2 separate regions of the Homo sapiens genome follow, and region 2 is linked to region 1. The links come from fine-mapping of genetic effects on plasma protein levels. Region 1 holds a variant in brackets. A gene starts in the other region. All regions are shown on their forward strands. Region 1 overlaps PTPN11 (protein tyrosine phosphatase non-receptor type 11). Region 2 holds the start of TNFRSF4 (TNF receptor superfamily member 4).

Evidence for each region. A credible set is the group of variants that fine-mapping cannot tell apart. PIP is the posterior inclusion probability: the model's chance that the variant is causal. The UK Biobank Pharma Proteomics Project read protein levels with antibody pairs (Olink). The fine-mapping took linkage between variants from a reference panel, not from the people measured, so its PIPs are less certain.
Region 2: TNFRSF4 starts here. The variant in region 1 is the best candidate, but not a certain one, in a credible set for the plasma level of the TNFRSF4 protein (UK Biobank, PIP 0.55).

What each region holds. Positions count from the first base shown.
Region 1 is chr12:112,440,539-112,450,156 of GRCh38, forward strand. It overlaps PTPN11 (protein tyrosine phosphatase non-receptor type 11), which reads left to right. Exons shown (of 16, transcript NM_002834.5): 2 at 5,738-5,860. Among named protein-coding and RNA genes, the nearest start is that of PTPN11, 26 kb to the left of the region's middle. The variant G/A (reference allele first, on the strand shown) is at 5,134.
Region 2 is chr1:1,208,693-1,218,310 of GRCh38, forward strand. It overlaps TNFRSF4 (TNF receptor superfamily member 4), which reads right to left and starts at 5,461. Exons shown (of 7, transcript NM_003327.4): 1 at 5,291-5,461; 2 at 4,971-5,093; 3 at 4,300-4,401; 4 at 3,946-4,012; 5 at 3,250-3,446; 6 at 3,012-3,140; 7 at 2,648-2,933. The coding sequence starts at 5,435. The coding sequence ends at 2,863. SDF4 (stromal cell derived factor 4) reads right to left here. Exons shown (of 7, transcript NM_016176.6): 7 at 8,239-8,996. The coding sequence ends at 8,820. RefSeq lists an enhancer at 1-359 and silencers at 226-335, 4,539-4,588.

The DNA.
Region 1 (9,618 bases):
CAGGCGTGAGCCACTGTGCCTGGCCTTTTTTTTTTTTTTTTTTTTTTTTTTTTAAGACAGAGTCTCGCTTTGTTGCCTAGGCTGGAGCGCAGTGGCATGATCTCAGCTTATTGCAACCTCCGCCTCCCGGGTTCAAGTGATTCTCCTGCCTCAGCCTCCCGAGTATCTGAGATTACAGATGTGTGCCACCATGCCTGGCTAATTTTTGTATTTTTAGTACAGATGAGGTTTTGCCATGTTGCCCAGGCTGGCCTCAAACTCCTGACCTCAGGTAATCCTCCTGCCTCAGCTCTTCCCAAAGTGCTGGGATTATAGGCATGAGTCACCGGGCCCAGACTCAATCTTCTGACAAGCTCTCAGAGAGAGTAAAAAGCAAATGAATATTTCATTATTTTGATCTGAGCTTTACGATTTTTCTTTTCTTTTCTTTTTTTTTTTTTTTTGAGATGGAGTTTTGCGTTGTTGCCCAGGCTAGAGTGCAGTGGTGGCGATCTTGGCTCACCGCACCCTCCGCTTCCCGGGTTCAAGCGATTCTTCTGCCTCAGCCTCCTGAGTAACTGGGATTACAGGCATGCGCCACCATGCCCGGCTGATTTTGTATTTTTAGTAGGGACAGGGTTTCTCCATGTTGGTCAGGCTGGTCTTAAGCTCCCGACCTCAGGTGATCCACCTGCCTCGGCCTCCCAAAGTGCTGGGATTACAAGCATGAGCCACCTTGCCCAGCCTTTTTTTTTTAAATCTGAGAAGAGGTCTTGCTCGATTGCCTAGGCTGGAGTGCAGTGGTGCGATCTCTGCTCACTGCATTCTCTGCCTCCCAGACTCAAGCAATCCTCCCACCTTAGCCTCCTGAGTAGCTGGGACTACAGGCATATGCCACCACACCTGGCTAATGTTCGTATTTTTTTGTAGAGACAGGGTTTTGCCATTTTGCCCAGGCTGGTCTTGAACTCCTGACCTCAGGTGATCCTCCCACCTTGGCCTCCCAAAGTGCTGGGATTACAGGTGTGAGCCACTGTGCCTGGTCTCCTTCACTGTTGTAAGATACTTGAATTGGGTCAATATTTGTGGAGAAGTCTCTTAAAAGTTCACTTGATTGTCAGTACTAGAACTCTACATTTAATATTGACATATTCCTGGGAGCATTTCAGAGCATTCTATTAGCTTAGAAAGGTCCAGGATAATTTGACTTTAGAAGTTACTGTTACCATGAATCTCAATGACTTTTGAAATCCATGAAGAATATCTTTTTTTTTTTTTTGAGACGGAGTCTCACTCTGTCGCCCAGGCTGGAGTGCAGTGGTGATCTGGGCTCACTGCAAGCTCCGCCTACTGGGTTCACGCCATTCTCCTGCCTCAGCCTCCCGAGTAGCTGGGATTACAGGCACATGCCACCACGCCTGGCTAATTTTTTTGCATTTTTAGTAGAGAGGGGGTTTCACTGTGTTAGCCAGGATGGTCTCGATCTCCTGACCTTGTGATCCGCCCGCCTCGGCCTCCCAAAGTGCTGGGATTACAGGCGTGAGCCACCGCGCCTGCCCAAGAATATCTTTTTGCTGGTAACTAGAGAGGACTCCTCTGAAGCAGATGCCATTCATGATGGATTTCATCATTTATGGGTTTTAAAAAACATTTTATTTTGAAATAATTTCAAATTTAAATAAGAGTTGCAAAATAGTACAAATAATTCGTGTTAACTTTTCATCCAGATTTACAAGTCAACCTTATACAGGTTGAGTATCCCTTATCCAAAATGCTTGGGACCAGAAGTGTTTTGGATTTCAGATTTTTTCGAATTTTGGAATATTTTTATTATATACTTAAGCATCTCTAATCCCCAAATCTCAAATCTGAAATATCTGAAATGCTATGATGAGCATTTCCTTTGAGTGTTATGTGGGCACTTTTTAAATTTATTTAATTAATTTATTTTTTGAGATGGAGTATTGCTCCATCACCCAGGCTGGAGTGCAGTGAGCGATCTTGGCTTATTGCAAACTTCACCTTCTGGGTTCAAGTGATTCTCCTGCCTCAGCCCCCTGAGTAGTTGGGACTATAGGCGCTTGCCACCACGGCCGGCTAATTTTTGTATTTTTAGTAGAGACAGGGTTTCACCGTGTTGGCCAGGCTGGTCTCGAACTCCTGACCTCAGGTGGTCCACCTGCCTCCGCCTCCCAAAGTGCTGGGATTACAGGAGTGAACCACCGCGCCTGGCCATGGATTTTGCAGCATTTTAGATTTGGGATACTCAACCTGTACCATGTTTACTCTCTCTCCTCTCTCTCTCTCTCTTTTTATATATATATATATATATATATATATATATATATATATATATATATAAATTATATATACACTACACATATATGTATGTATATGTATGTATTTTATATATAAAATACATATCTACATATAAAATACACATGTATATATACATGTGTACATATATGTGTCTCTATATTTAAGTTTTGTTGGAACCACTTGAGGGTAAGTTGCAGACATGGCGTCTCATTGCTCCAAAATACTTCAGTGTGTATTTCTTAAATACAAGGACACTTGGTTACATAACCACAGTATATCACCAAATGTATATTATAACAAGACTACCATCAAATCCTTATATCTCTTTCAAATTGTTTTAGTAATATCCTTATAGCAAAAGACAAAACAACAACAAAAACTGTTCCCTTTTATTTTGTTTGTTTTGGTCCATTATATGTCCAGGTTATGCATTAATGCATTGTGTTACTTGCTAAGTCTTGTTACTGGCCTTTAATTAGGATATTTCTTTGCATCCCGCCAAACTCCTCTTCATGGTTGTATCTTTTTTTTTTTTTTTGGAGATGGAATTTTGCTTATGTTGCCCAGGCTGGAGTATAATGATGCGATCTTGGCTCACTGCAACCTCCGTCTCCCGGGTTCAAGCGATTCTCCTGCCTCAGCCTCCCGAGTAACTGGGATTGCAGGCCTGCGCCACCTTGCCCAGCTAATTTTGGAATTTTGTGAGACGGGGTTTTGCCATGTTGGTCAGACTAGTCTCGAACTCCTGACCTCATGATCCGCCCGCCTTGGCCTCCCAAACTGTTGGGATTACAGGTGTGAGCCACTGTGCCCGGTCTTTTTTTTTTTTTTTTTGAGACAGGGTCTTATTCTGTTGCCTGGCCTGGAGTGCAGTGGTATGATCTTGGCTCACTGCAACCTGGACCTCCTGGGCTCAGGCGATCCTCCCACCTCAGCCTCCTTAGTAGCTGGGACTATAGGCACACACCACCATGCATGGCTAATTTTTATATTTTTTTGTAGAGACTGGGTTTCGCCATGTTGCCCAAGCTGGTCTTGAACTCCTGGGCTCAAGTGATCCACCTGCCTTGGCCTCCCAAAATGCTAGGATTACAGGTGTAAGCCACTGCGCCTGGCCCTAATTTTTGCATTTTTTGTAGAGATGGGGTTTCACTATATTGCCCAGGCTGGTCTTGAACTCCTGGGCTCAAGTGATCTTCCCATCACAGCCCCCTAAAGTGCTGGGATTATAGGCGTGAACCACTGTGCCTGGCTGAGGATTAAGTTTCAACCTCAGGGGAGCGGCATTCAAACTATAGCATTGTCCTTTAGTGACTGGCTTAGTTCACTTAGAATGTTTGTCTATTCATCCATCTATAGACACTGTTTTCTTTCACCTTTTGGCTTTGCAAATAATGCTGCTGTGAATATGAGTTATAGAAAAATACCAATTTGAATCCGTGTTTTCAATTACTTTGAGTATATACCTGGAAGTGGAATTTCTGGATCATATGGTACTTCCAAGTTTTTTTTTTTTCTTTTTTGAGACAAGGTCTCACTCTGTCACCCAGGCTGGAGTGTAGTGGCACGATCTTGGCTCACTGCAACCTCCGCCTCCCGGGTTCAAGCGATTCTCCTGCCTCAGCCTCTCAAGTAGCTGGGATTACAGGCACGCGCCACCACGCCCAACTAATTTTGTATTTTTAGTAGAGATGGGTTTCTCCATGTTGGTCAGGCTGCTCCCGAACTCCCGACCTCAGGTGATCTGCCTGCCTCAGCCTCCCAAAATTCTGGGATTACAGGTGTGAGCCACCGCACCTGGCCTCCATGTTTCAATTTTTAAACAAACAATTAGTTAAAAAAATAGGAAACTAAGAGAATGAACTATTTCCTGTTTTATTCAGTGGGTTATAATCTGTTACTATCATTGTTTATTTTGAGGTACAAATTGTCCCTACTTTGGCCAGCAGAGGATCCTGCAGTTTGTCTCCTGTGTCCTTTTCATAGCTCCTTGTTGGAACTCTTACTGGCCCACAATAGGATGTTCCAAGTTCATCTTCTTACTTTTACTGCCCCAACGCTGGGATCAGCCATTTCTTCAAGGAGGCCAGTTCCTTTCATTGGAGAATGGAAAACCCAATATGTAGAAACCAAGATAGAGGTGTTAGGTGTGATTGCTACTGGAGTGTCATTGCTTCCAAACCCTTTCAGAAGAGACCTAGGAAATGTGTGTGTGTGTGTATATATATATGTGTGTGTGTGTGTGTATTCATAAAAGCACATACACATACACATACCCCGAAGCATGTATTTCTGTATTATTATTATTTTTTTGAGATGGAGTCTTGCTCTGTCGCCCAGGCTGGAGTACAGTGGCACGATCATGGCTCACTGCAACCTCTGCCTCCTGGATTCAAGCAATTCTCCTGTCTCAGCCTCCTGAGTAGCTGGGATTACAGGTGTCCACCACCACGCCCACCTAATTTTTGTATTTTTAGTAGAGATGGGGTTTCACCACATTGGCCAGGATGGTCTTGAACTCCTGACGTCAAGTGATCTGCCCGCCTCGGCCTCCCAAAGTGCTGGGATTATAGGCGTGAGCCACTGTTCCCATCCAGAAGCATACATATCTATTTCTATATCTACATTTCTGTCTTTACATGTATATATTAAAAATTACAGTTTGCACTAATACCTCCAATTACAATCTAACATCATGGGATTTATTCTGGCTTTCTCCCTTCTCATATTTGTGTCTCCCCAACAGTGAGAAACCTGGCTTGCTATCCTCAACATGGTAACTTATTTATTAAGAAACTTATTCTTTTTTTTTTTTTTTTTCTGAGATTGAGTTTC[G/A]CTCTTGTTGCCCAAGCTGGAGTGCAGTGGTGTGATCTTGGCTCACCGCAACCTCTGCCTCCTGGGTTCAAGCGATTCTCCTGCCTCAGCTTCTCAAGTAGCTGGGATTACAGGCATGCACCACCATGCCCAGCTAATTTCGTATTTTTAGTAGAGATGGGTTTCTCCATGTTGGTCAGGCTGCTCTGGAACTCCCGACCCCAGCTGATCTGCCTGCCTCGGCCTCCCAAAGTCCTGGGATTACAGGCGTGAGCCACCGTGCCCTGCCTCTAGTTTATTTATTTTTATTCCATGTGCTCAGTCTTGCGAGCACGTGGTCTGTTTTCTTGGGCCTGGCCCCCTCAGTGCACTGTCTTAATACCCTAGCCCCCAGTCCCTCTGATCATATCCCCAGACACCCCTACTGAATCCCAGGTCTCTACCAAGGGAAAGGCAGGGAGGAGGCATTGACCAAGGAGAAGAGGGGGAAGGGACAGGGAAGGTCTTGATTTGTATTTTCTAAAATTTTCTACTCTGCTCATAATGCGTCTTAGCTGTGTTGTTGTGGAAAGTAGTGCTGACAGTGTCTTGTTTTTTTATTACTTACTTTGTCTTTCTTTTTAAGATGGTTTCACCCAAATATCACTGGTGTGGAGGCAGAAAACCTACTGTTGACAAGAGGAGTTGATGGCAGTTTTTTGGCAAGGCCTAGTAAAAGTAACCCTGGAGACTTCACACTTTCCGTTAGGTAAGTTGGAATGAAAAGAGAGGATCCTGAGAGTGTTTTCTAGGTAGGAAGTGGTAAAACCATGCTTGGATAGCTTGCTGCCTGCATTTCGAGTTTGAAGGCCTTATCTGAGCCCTGGGCTGCCTTCAGGGTTTGGGGAGTGGCCTCCTGGACATTTAGCAGAAGAGGAGTAAGGAGGGCCCTTCTTCTCCCTCTGAGACCTCATGGAAGGTGAGTTGGAGCAGGTCATAGAAGTTCTTAAGCCCTCCAGTGCTTGAGACTTGTTCCACACATCTTGAACCTGGTTTCTGCATTTTTCTTTTCCTTCCTGTTGATTTATTTAAAAATTTTATTTCTTTTCAATTTTTTTTTTTTTTTAAATAGAGGTGGGATCTTCCAATGTTGGCCAGGTTGGCCTTGAACTTCTGGCCTCAAGCAATCCTGCCTCGGCCTCCCAAAGTGTTAGGATTACAGGCGTGAGCCACTATGCCTGGCCTTCTTTTTTTGAGACAAGCTGTTGCTCTGTTGCCCAGGCTGGAGTGCAGTGGTACGATCACAGCTTACAGCAGCCTTGAACTCCTGGGCTTAAGTGATCCTCCCGCCTCAGCCTCCCGGGTAGCTGGGACTCCAGGCTTGTGCCACCATGCTCAGCATTTTTAAAAAATATTTTTTGTAGAGATGAGGTCTCACTGTATTACCAAGGCTGATCTTTAACTCTTAGCCTCAAGTGATCCTCCTGCCTCAGCCTCCCAAAGTGTTGGGATTACAGGCATGAGCCACCACACTCAGACTTTGTTGACTTCTTAATAAGAAAAATACTTGTTAAGAGTTTCTTCAGATCACTTTCCTTTATCAACAAGTAAAACATGACTGAGGAAGTTGTGGTCCCCTTTGCTTCCCTGCCCAGGCCCGTTTCCCTCCCTCTTTCCCCAGAGGAAACCACCAAGAGGTTGGCATATATTCTTCCTGAACGTGTTTTTATAGTTGTACTGCACTTGTACTGTGTATGAACAATATAAAGTTGGTTTGTGTGTTTAAAAAATTCACATACATGGATTTATAATGTATGTATCATTTTGCAACTTAAAAATTTTTTTTTGAGCTCCATGCTGATTGATAACGATCTATTTTTTTTTTTTGAGATGGAGTTTCAGTCTTATTGCCCAGGCTGAAGTGCAATGGCGTGATCTCAGCTCACTGCAACCTCAGCCTCCTGGGTTCAAGCTATTCTCCTGTCTCAGCCTCCGGAGTGGCTGGGATTACAGGTGCATGCCACCATGCCCAGCTAATTTTTGTATTTTTAGTAGAGATGGGGTTTCACCATGTCGACCAGGCTGGTCTCAAACTCCTGACCTCAGGTGATCTGCCTGCCTTGGCCTCCCAAAGTGCTGGAATTACAGGCATGAGCTACCATGCCTGGCCTTTTTTTTTTTTTTTTTTTGAGACAAAGTCTTGCTCTTTTTCCCAGGCTGGAGTGCAGTGGCCACAATCTTGGCTCACTGCAACCTCTGCCTCCTGAGTTCAAGCAGTTCTCCTGCCTCAGCCTCCTGAGTAGCTGGGATTACAGACATGTACCACCATGCCAAGTTAATTTTTGTATTTTTTGTAGAGACTAGGTTTTACCATGTTGGCCAGGCTGGTCCTGAACTCCTGACTTAAAGTGATCCATCTGCCTTGGCTTCCCAAAGTGCTGGGGTTACAGGCATGAGCTATCGCGCCTGGCCTGAGAAATCTCATTCTTACTCCTACTCCCTTGCACACTATCTCCATTCTGTAGGTAGCCATTTCTATTAATTTCTTGTTTACCCTTCTGTGTTTCTTTCATTCTTTTTCTTTTTTTCTTTTTTTTTTTTGAGACAATCTTGCTCTGTTGCCCAGACTGGAGTGCAGTGGTGTGATCTTGGCTCACCGCAACCTCCACCTCCTGGGTTCAAGTGATTTTCATGACTCAGCCACCTAAGTAGTTGGGATTACAGCGCCTGGTGTACACTACCACACCCAGCTAATTTGTGTATTTTTAGTAGAGATGGGGTTTCACCATGTTGTCCAGGCTAATCTCCAACTCTTGGCCTCAAGGGATCTGCCTGTCTCAGCCTCCCAAAGTGCTGGGATTATAGGCATGAGCCACCATGCCTGGCCCTATGTTTCTTTTTATAAAAATAAGCAAATTAATATTTTTATTACTATTTTCCTTTTATTTTTACACATCAAGTAGAACATTAAATATATTTCTCTGTAATTTTTTTCAGTTACCTAAATCTTTTAGTGATCTCTCTCATCTTTTTAATCAGCTGGATCGCATTCTATCATGTGAATATTTTATAACTTCTATATACTGTCACCAGCAGGTAGCGATTTAGTTGTGTCTAATATTTTAAAATGATATATAATGCCTCAATGAATATAGTAACCTTTTGCATATATTGTTTTGTGCTTTGGGATAACACTACCTCGTATTGGAAACTGTGTCATTACATGTGTCTTTAAAATTACATGTGTCTTTTTATTTTTATTTTTATTTTTTTTGAGTGGGAGTTTCACTCTTGTTGCCCAGGCTGGAGTGCAGTGGTGAGATCTCGGCCGACTGCAACTTCCGCCTCCCGGGTTCAAGCGATTCTCCTGCCTCAGCCTCCCCAGTAGGTGAGATTACAGGTGCCTGCCACCACGCCCAGCTAATTTTTGTATTTTTAGTAGGGACGGGGTTTCACCATGTTGGCCAGGCTGGTATCGGTCTGCTGACCTCAGGTGATCCTCCCACCTCAGCCTCCCAAAGTGCTGGGATTACAGACGTGAGCCACCATGCCTGGCCATCACTTTTTTTTTTTTCTTAATTGCTGCATAGTGGCCGGGCACAGTGGCTCACGCCTGTAATCCCAGCACTTTGGGAGGCCAAGGCAGGCGGCGGATCATGAGGTCAGGAGACCAATACCATCCTGGCTAACATGGTGAAACCCCGTCTCTACTAAAAATACAAAAAAATTTAGCTGGGCGTCGTGGCGGGCGCCTGTAGTCCCAGCTACTTGGGAGGTTGAGGCAGGAGAATGGTGTGAACCCGGGACGTGGAGCTTGCAGTGAGCCAAGATTGCACCACTGCACTCCAGCCTGGGTGATGGAGTGAGACTCTGTCTCAAAAACAAACAAACAAACAAAAAAATTGCTGCATAGTATTCCATTGTATGAGTAGTAACACAACAATTTTTATAATGCATAGTATTCCATTGTATGAATAGTAATGTAGCACTATTTGTTTATACATTTTTATGATTAAAAAACAAAATGTTTTTCTATTATGAATAAAGTGGCAATGAATATTTTTGTACAAGTGTTTTGGTAGCTATACAGTTATTGTCACTTAATATATGCAATTCGATAGGCCAGTCATTCAAAATAGAAGATATACAAGGTAGGCCGGGCGTGGTGGCTCACGCCTGTAATCTCAGCACTTTGGGAGGCCGAGGTGGGTGGATCACCTGTGGTTAGGAGTTTCAGACCAGCCTGACCAACATGGAGAAACCTCATCTCTACTAAAAATACAAAAGTAGCTGAGCGTGGTGGCGCATTCCTGTAATCCCAGCTTCTTGGGAGGCTGAGGTAGGAGAATCACTTGAACCTGGATTTATAATGTATGTAAATCCACCGCGAAGGTTGCGGTGAACCGAGATCACGTCATTGCACTCCAGCCTGGGCAATAAGAGCGAAACTCCATCTCAAAAAAAAAAAAAAAAGATATGCAAGGTAAAGATACTAATAAAGACCTTTGTGTTGAGTTGGTTGACATG
Region 2 (9,618 bases), not on the chromosome of region 1:
GTGCGGCAAGGGGTCCTGCTGGGGAATAAGTCCCACGGGGCCTGGGGGGTGCTGTGCCCAGAGGGGAGGAGACAGGAAGCGATGGGTATGGGCGCCAGGTTTGGGGAGGAGGCCCCTTTCCCATAGCCGTCGACCTGCGGGCCCCACAGGATCTGGCCGCTCCAGTCCCGGCCACCTGACCCCTTCCCCCACCCACCCGCCATCCTGCCTGGAGGTCTGGCCTCGCCTGCCCCACGGGGCGGGGGGCGGGGGGCTCTCAGAGGCGCGGCCCCAACCCTGTGCAGGGCCTGCAGGCTGAACCGTGTGCAGGAACCCGGGGAACTCGGTGAAGGTGCTGGATGGGGGACAGGACGGCCTCTGACTTCCCTATGCTGCGGGGGGGGAGGCTTGTGGTTAGCAGAGAGTGGGTGGAAGACAGAGGTTTGAGGAGAGAGAGACCCAGGGGAGAAAACCAGCTGCAGAGGCAGGAGGGGTCCAGGGCAGCCCGAGGCCAGAGATGGGCGTCTTCCTTACAGCCACCTGTGGTCCCGGCACCTTGGGCTGTTGTGAGTGGCGCGTGGCGCTCCCACTGTGCACCCCCGGGGCCGGTTCCCCACTTCCACGACACCGGCAGGGGGGAGCCATCCGCCAGGCACAGGAGGCCTGGACAGCCGTGGGCAGCGTGCGCTGTTGGAGGACGCAGGGAGAGGGAAGGCTGGCCCAGGGACGCTGTGTGGGGCAGCGGGTGCAGCTGCGGGGCTGGGCCACACCAGCCACGGTAGCCGGAGTGTCCAGGCTGTGCCAGGCCCTCAGCAAAACCTTCCATGAGGCTTCATGTGTTTCTTCTTAAGTAATTTTTTTAAATTTCTTTTTTTTTTTCCAGTCACGTCTCACTGCAGCCTCCATCTCTTGGGCTCAAGTGATCCTCCCACCTCGGCCTCCCAAGTAGCCGGGACCACAGGCATGCACCACCACACCCGGCTGATTTTTTCTATTTTTCATAGAAAAGGGTCTTGCCATGTTACCCAGGCGGGTCTCAAACTCCTGAGCTCAGACGATCGTCTGGCCTCAGCCTCCCAAAGTGCTAGGATTCTAGGCGTGAGCCACCGTGACCGGCCTCGGCTGTGTGTTTCTTGCTCATGAGTGCAGTGAGGGCCAGGCGTGGTGGCTCACACCTGGAATCGCAGTACTCCAGGGCACCGAGGCAGGTGGATCACCTGAGGTCAGGAGTTCAAGACCAGCTTAGCCAACATGGTGAAACCCTGTCTCTAATAAAATACAAAAATTAGCCGGGTGTGGTGCTGGGCGCCTGTAGTCCCAGCTACTTGGGAGGCTGAGGCAGGAGAATGGCGTGAACCCGGGAGGCAGAGGTTGGTGAGCTGAGATCACACCACTGCACTCCAGCCTGGGTGACACAGCAAGACTCCGGCAAAAAAAAAAAAAGAAAGAAAAAACAAGTGCAGTGAGACGTCTTAGCCCTCGGGAGTGTTTCTCTTCAGCCCCTGACACCATGGAGGCGAACAGGCACCTCCGCCTCCCGAGGGACACAGATGTCGCTTAGACGCCCGGGGTGTCTTCCCTGCGGGAAGCCTGCAGGGCTGCTCCCGCCTTGTTCCCGAGCTGTGGCCTCGGGCGTGACTGGCGCTCGGGAGCAGGCTCTGTGCTGCTCGAAGGATACCCCACTCCCAGACACCAGCTTGAGAAGATTCCCGCACGGCCGGGGACGGCCCCAGGGCCTTGGGAGCGTCTGTGGACACCTGTGGTGTGGGCCGAGGAGCTGGGAGCTCATCTGAACACGCCAGCACTCGCGCATCCACGCTGCTGGCGGATGCCTGGGTTTCTCCACTGTGGGGCCACGTTACATGAAGTCGCTGTGGTCATTCTCATTCAGATCCCAGGACTCTTAAGTGCGCAGGAGTGGGACGGCCGGGGCCCAGGGTGGACAGAAAGTTGGCTCAAGCAGAAACTGTGGTTTCCAAGGTGACTGTCCCCCTGGACACCTATGGCAGGGACATAGGGGCCGTGTGGGCCCTTTGCAGGGACTCCTCGGGGTGCTCAGGGGCCCTGGGACCCCCTTCCAGGTGCAGCAAGGGGTGGGCGTAGGTGTGGAGGGGAAGAGGGGCAGGTCTCTACACTCCTCCTCCAAGGACACAGAGCCCCGGGGGTCAGCCACTCCCAAGCTCCTTGGGCAACCCGGGGCTCAGGGGCCAGCTGCCCTTGTCAGCGCCTGGCCAGGAACCTCCACCCCAGGCAGCCTTGGGCCTGAGCTTTCCCAGTCTCTCCCCCCGCTCCCCACTCAATCTGGAACTCGCACCCAGGGACCAACCTCCAGGGTCCCACTTGACCCCGCTACCCTCACCTCCACCCTGGCCCAAGACCCCTCTCCAGCCACAGGTTGGCACAGCCCAAGTCTCCCAAGACCCCTCTCCAGCCACAGGTTGGCACGGCCCAAGTCTCCCAAGACCCCTTTCCAGCCACAGGTTGGCACGGCCCAAGTCTCCCAAGACCCCTCTCCAGCCAGAGGCGGGCACGGCCCAAGCCTCCCAAGACCCCTGTCCAGCCAGAGGCGGGCACGGCCCAAGCCTCCCAAGACCCCTCTCCAGTCAGAGGCGGGCACGGCCCAAGCCTCCATGCCACAGGTGTGCAGCCCACAGTGCCGGTCGGAGACTCCCGTCTGCCAAGGTTTTTATTGTGGTCCCGCGGGGCAGGAGGTATGCATGGCATACGTAAGCAGAGAGCCGGAGGCAGCCATCGGCACCTAGAACGGTGCAGAGTTGGCCCAGGAGCGTGGCGGGGCAGGCGGCCTGCACCTGCCCTGCTCGCCCAGCAGACCCTCCGGGCTCCAGCCTGGCGGGGCCCAGCGTCCACCTTGGTGGGCCCAGGTCAGATCTTGGCCAGGGTGGAGTGGGCGTCGGCCTGCTCCTCTTGGATGGGGGTCCGGAAACTGCCTCCCCCTGGGGAGGAAAAAAGGAGAGATTGGTGGGTGGGCCTCACCCGCCAGGAGCAGTGCGGCAGGGCCATGAGGCACTCACCAGGGGGCTTGTGGGCATCGGGGGGCAGCCTCTGGTCCCTCCGGAGCAGGTACAGGGCCAGCAGGATGGCCAGGGGGCCCAGCAGCCCCAGCACCAGGCCCAGGCCCAGGATGGCGGCAACCGCACGGCCTGCAGGAAGGGGTCTGCTGGGTGGGGTCCACAGGAGGGGCCCCCATGCCGCCCTCCCCTTCTCCTATTCGGGTTGGGGGCCCCGCTGGGCTGGGCCAGGCGCCCTTACCCCCGGGGACCTCCACGGGCCGGGTGGAGGGTCCCTGTGAGGTTCTGGGCCAGGCTTCAGTGGGCTGGACAGTGATGGGCCTGGCCGGGGGGCCCTGGGTCTCCTGGGGCTGCGTGGCTGGGGGGTCCCTGTCCTCACAGATTGCGTCCGAGCTATTGCTGGCCGGCTGCAGGGTGTGCTTCCCAGCCAAGGTGCAGCTGTTGGGGAACAGGAGGTGTTGCTCAGGCCAGAAACCCCCTGGGACCCGGGAGATGCGGTGGGGATAACAGGGTCCACGCTGGCCAGCCACAGGCAGCATCTACCACAGACACCAGGCCAGTGACAGCCAAGGACGCTGCCCAGCCCCACGTGCCCCCCACAGGGGCCTCCAAGGCCACACACCCTTCTCCCACATCTACACCCCCCACCAGCACCTCCCTGTCCTGTGCCCCCAGGGCCTCCCAGCTGCGGAGGGTGAGGGTCCCACACACCCAGCTCCACCCACAGGGAAAGGCTGCCCCCAGGCAGCAGCTTCCTGCTCCCCAACCAGGTCCAGCCACATAGCCAGGCCCCCAGGGCCACCAGCACCTCCCCTTCCCCCAAAACTGCCCCCACCCCACCTGCCCCCCCAGCCCCTCCCAGCTCCCCAGCTCCTCCGCCCTCCTAACCACCCCAACCCCCCCCCAGCCCCTCCCAGCCCCTGGCCAGGCCCCTCACTTGGTCCAGGGCTTGCAGGCCTGGTTGTCGCCTGGGGAGAAGTGCCCTGGAGGGCAGGGGGCACAGTCTGCAACAAAGATAGGGTGGTCAGGGGCTGCCCACAGGCCCCGGGTGCTGGGGACATGGGGCAGAGCCTGTGGGGCAGGCACTTGCCCCCCATGGCTGGGTGGTGGGTTTGGCCTCTGGAAGCCCTCCCTGCCCACATCCCACCCGTGGGCCCTGACCCGGGAGCTCGGTCTTGAGGATGCCAGAGGAGGCACCGGTGGGGCCAGGTCCCTGCGGCCCACGGCCCATCTGCGTCACAGACAGCCGCTATGCACACCCCCAACCGCCGGCCGCAGCCACCGAGCTCACCAACTCCAGGCTTGTAGCTGTCCAGGGGCTGGGTGCCCGCCCGGCAGCGGCAGACTGTGTCCTGTGTGGCCGTGCACAGCTGCTTCCGCTCACTCCCACTTCCTGAGCAGGGGCCGGATGGGGGGGTGGTCAGGTGGGGGCTGTGGACAGGGTCCTCAGGAAGCGTGGGCACTGGAGGACAGGTTGGCCTCCCCACCACACAGAGGGCCGTGGGCAGGGGTCTGCGGCCTCCCCTGAGACTTGGAGCCCCTGCAGCCCCCGAGGCTCCTGGGCCCTCCCTTCCTGGCCACAACCTGGGGCTGGTTCCGTGGCAGCCCCAGCCACCCTTCCCTACCCCTCCACCGCCTCCAGCCGCCAGCCCCGCCTGCGGCAGGGTCTCCATGGCCCAACCCCCCAGCCTCACTGCTCAGGCCAGCAAGGCCAGGCCACATGGCCAGCGTGGTCTCCCCGACTCCACGTGGCCTGGGCCGAGTCTGGGCCCCCGGAGGGAGAGGGGGTGCCCCTGGGAGACGCCTCAGCTCCTCGAAGGACCCCTGTGGCGGAGCAGACCCCGCTGTGGTTTGAGGTTCGTTTCTGCGGCTGTGGGAGCCCCATGCTGCTGCGTGGGAATGTGGGTGCCAGGCTGCCGCCCCCTGTGCTGGGTGGGGCTGTGGGGCCAGGTGGGAGCTCACTGAGGTTACACCACGTGCAGGGCTTGCACGGCTTGGAGCTGACCACGTCGTTGTAGAAGCCCGGCCCGCACGGACGGCACACCGTGTTCTGGGAGCGGCTGCAGCGGCTCACCATCCCGTTGCCTGCAGCAGAGGCCGGCGTCAGGCAGCGGTCAGGCCCCAGGCTTGCGCCCGTGGACCCCCCCAGGCGGCTCCTCTGCCAGGCTTGGCCGGCCCCTCACCCGCCCCCTCCCCAGGACCAGCCTCCTGGCTGGCCCATCCCTGCCCCAGCCCCCAGTCCCTGGAGTGCCCGTGCGTGGCGACCCCTCCTGAGGCCTCACCTGGCCTGCACTCGTGGCAGCACCGGTCGTTGCTGGGGTAGGTGTCCCCGACACAGTGGAGCCCCGTCACGGTGCTCAGCCCCAGGCCCAGGAGGAGCAGAGCCGCACACGGCCCGCGGCCCAGCCGCCGAGCCCCCACGCACATCCTCGTCTCTGCTGTCGCCAGAGTCTGGGTTTTCCTTGCGGGGTGTGGCTATAAGGACTGTGGAGGAGGGGAGGGGAGAGGGGAGGAGGGCAGAGGAGGCGGGAGGAGGAAGGTGGCAGGCCGGGGACCCTGGCTGTGGGCTGGGCACAAAGGCGGGGTCTGGGCACCCCCAGCATTGGCTTATTCTGCCTTCTGACCTCTTCTGCCCAAGACCACCGTGTTCAGACCCCAGGGCACAGTAGGGCCTGGCCTGCGGCTCGACCCTCAGCAAAAAGGTCCATGGAGCACGTGGGTAAACTGAGGCAGCACTGAGTCAGGAGAGGCAACTCCTCAGTCTGGACCTTCAGGGCTGTGGCACTGCTGAAGCATGGTCCCCCTTGTATGCCCAAGACTAGCTCTGAGCAGCAGTGACCACAGCCATGGTAAGACAGACACCCATGGCCAGGCACGGTGGCTCCCGCCTGTAATCCCAGCACTTTGGGAGGCCAAGGCGGGTGGATCACCTGAGGTCAGGAGTTCAAGACCAGTCTGGCTAACATGGCGAAATCCCGTCTCTACTAAAACTACAAAAATTATTCGGGCGTGGTGGCGGGCGCCGGTAATCCCAGCTAGTCAGGAGGCTGAGGTAGCAGAATCACTCGAACCCAGGAGACAGAAGTTGCAAAGCAGAGGTGGCGCCACTGCACTCCAGCCTGGGCGACAGGGCGAGACTCATCTCAAAAAAAAAAAAAAAGACACCCGTGACCACAGCCCACGCTGAGTGTGCCTGAGCACGGCAGGTGTCTATGGCTGAACTGTGCCCCTTAAATTCCTGCGTGGAAGCCCTAACCCCCATGTGGCAGTGTTTGGAGACAGGCCTCTGAGGAGGTGGTGAGGGTGGGTCCTGGATGGCCTGGCGCACACGGGCACGCAGGCAGGTTTCCACCTTCTATGCAAACAGTTCTCAGGTTCCAGGTTTGCCCAGAGGATGCGAACTGCCCGGAGAGCTGGGGAGCAGGTGCGGGGCTGGGGGCTCCCTGGGCCCTTTCTGCACCTTTCAAATAACTGTGACCAGCCTGTGATTATCCAAAAGTTCATTTTTGAAGTTGCAAGTGGAGAGGGGCCTCTAGGAACAGAGCAGCAGGGAAGGGGCTGGAAATCCCCTCCTCCCAGGAGCACAGGAAACAGCTGCCTGTCCTCGGCCCACCCGTGGGGAAATTCCCAGCCGTGGAGCCCGCTGGCCCTGGAGAGGGAGGGAGTGGAGGGAGAGGCCACCCGCCCTCGGACTGAGGGTCCCTAAGTTGGTCACCCTCCCCACGTCCCCACAAGTAGAGAGGACCCTGGAAGGGCTCAGAGCATCCCAGACAGTGTGTGTACCTGCATGTGCACACCCCAACCCAGGTGGGCAGAGGAGGAAAGTTCTGGCATTTTGTGGAAGGTTCCACCCAGCGTTCACAAGGGTTTCCCACTGACAGTGAGAAAAAGCTTACATTTGCAATTGGTTCCTTGGAGGTTCAGGTGAACTGGGGGTCTTGGTGGGCAACACTGCTCTCCTGGGGCCTAAGTGGCCACATCTGCCCACAGGTGCAGTGAGTGGGGCCCGTGCACCATGGAGAGGGCACCCCCAGCATATTGCTGGCAACTGCAATGGCCCCAGGATGGGGCACGGCCCCTCCTGCTTGAAGCTGCCCAGGAAGCTCAGGTCTCCTTGTCCTGGGCTTAAGGTCACAGGTCCAAGAAAGCCCTGCTGTGTCCATGGAACCGGGTGTGGCGTGGCCACAGGAGGCTGGACACTGACCCAGAGCTCAGGACCCCCAAGGTCTGTAAGGCAGCCTGCAGCTCGAACCACATCCCCAGGAGCTGGGCTCCCCGCTCCACACAGTAGTGTCGCGGGCGGCACAGGGCAGCCCATGAGTGGCCACTGCTCCTCCAGTACCAGACTGGAGCTGGCTGGGGCCTCTGAAGGGCCAGGTGCCACCACATACCCAGCTGTCCCCCCGCCTTCATGTCCAGCACAGCATGGCCTCAGCTCACACCTCCCACCTCTGGGTGCACGGCCCTCAGCACAGGGCGTCGAATGCTGCTGCAGCTATGATGGTCCCTGGCTGTGGCCTGGGGCCACGGATGGGGAAAGACAGAGTCCAGGCCACCGAAGGTTGGCTCCAGGGAATTACAGCCCCTTAGAGCAGGGCGTGGGACCATCCTCCCACCACCTGCGCTGGCCGTGGCTCTGTGAATCTCGTTTGCCTGGGAACCAGCCCAGGTGCCAACCCGCCCTCTCGGCCCCACAGGGGCCCCTGGGCAGGTGGGCTCAGGGCAGAGGCCGGTCACATGGGCACCACAGGGCAGACTGAAGAGGACACACTCCCGGCTTCCCTGAGCTCCCACTGGGAGAGCCAGGACACAGCCTGGGCCCCCACACGCCACAGAGCAGGACCCCCACCAGCCGTCCTAACACACCCCATTCTCTGCCCCATCTGGGGCTAGGCCTGCCCCACTGCACCCAAAGACCTTGCCATCCTCCACCCAAAACCCCCAGGCGGCTCTGTCTCCTGCCTTAAATGTCCAAACCCCAAACTCAGTGGGCACGTCTGCTGCCCCCTGACCCCTACTCACAAACGCAGCGCTGCCCTCCGTCCTCCCAGAGCCCCTGCCCGTTGCCACCTGCCAGGAGAATCACCTCGAACCGGCCATGACCTCCAACCCTCCACGTGACCCAGCACCAGCCTCCAGCGCTCCAGTGGAAACTGTAACCACAAACCTAGCACGCTGCTGTTGTGTTTTGTTTCACGCCCAAAGAATGAAGCTGACCAAAAAAGGCAACTATATTTAAAGTAAATGTATGTGATTCTTGTCACAACAAATATTTGCATTTTCTCAGCGGCAGCTGCGGGACCTGGGTGGCTCCGACACGCCAGGCCCGGGAAGGACCCGGCACCCTCCCCTGAACTTCCTGGCTACTCATTTCCAGCGAAGTTTAATCTATTTTTAATAATCGTTCAGTTTTCAAGGAAATGGAGGAGCTGTTTTTTCCCACGGAGCGGCGGCCCTGGGAGGGGCCGGGCCCAGAGGTTCCGGCCGCGATGCCGTCAGCGCCTTCGGCAGAGTGACTGAAGCGAGATTTCGTTCTCAGAAGTGAGATGCCACGATTTCGAGGGACCAGGGAGGAGGCGGCGCCGCGGGGCCACAGCCCAGCCCCGCGCCCCGACCGCGTCACAGCCAAAGCCCCGCCGGGGTGCGCGCTGCAGAGGGGACACGCCGCTCATCAACTGGGGCAGCCGCGGTCGGTCGGCCGGTGGCGGGCGGCAGGGAAGAGGTGGGGTCCGGGACAGCCACGGAGCCCGGAGTCACCCGCGAGGCCGCCCCGGTGGTGCGTGGGGGGCGGCGCGGGGCGCGGCCGGGCGCTCAAAACTCCTCGTGCACGCTGCGCGCGTAGTCCACCAGCTTGCTGCCCGTGAAGAACTCGCTGTACTTGAGCACCTCCTCGGGCTCCAGGTGGTGGTTCTGGTTCTCGTCGGCGACGGCGATCATCTGCTTGGCCTCGTTCAGCGCGTTGTACTCGTTCATGGGGTCCATGTAGCTCTGCGGGCGAGCGGGGCACAGGTCAGCGTCGCCTTTCCCCCTCCGAGCTCCGCGGCCAGCCGCACGAAGTGGCTATTTAAGGTGCCTATTGGCTGCAGCGGGAGTGTGGGCACGTTCTGGAAGGTTCCCGAAGGGAGGCGGCACAAATGAAAACACAGGGCAGGGAGAAGCCGGGGGCCCCGGAAGGCCTGCCCGGGGCCAGCAGGGGTAACGGGGCACAGGGGCTACACAGGCCTGGACCCCAGTTCTGAAGGATCCCTAACCTGGGCCGGGCCCACTGGCTGTCGCCAGGAATCACAGGATTCTACATAAAAACAAGATGACTCACTCAGCAGTGGGAGAAAAACAAGCCTACACATGATACCAGTGAAAACGCTTCAGAGGAAGGTGGTAAATTCCAGCCATGTGGCACAGGCCGCCCCGCCCACCTGCACCTGCTGGGCCTTGGACCTGCCTCCATGCTGGGCCCAGCATGAGCTTCCCCTTGTGGTCCCGTTAAAAAGGGGCTGTGAGAACCCTGACGCCTCCGCAAGGGGCTGAGGATGGAGCCCGGCCAGGCTCGCCTGTCTCTGATCCGTCTGAACCTAAACGCCAACAACGGCCATGCAGCCTGGTGGACACC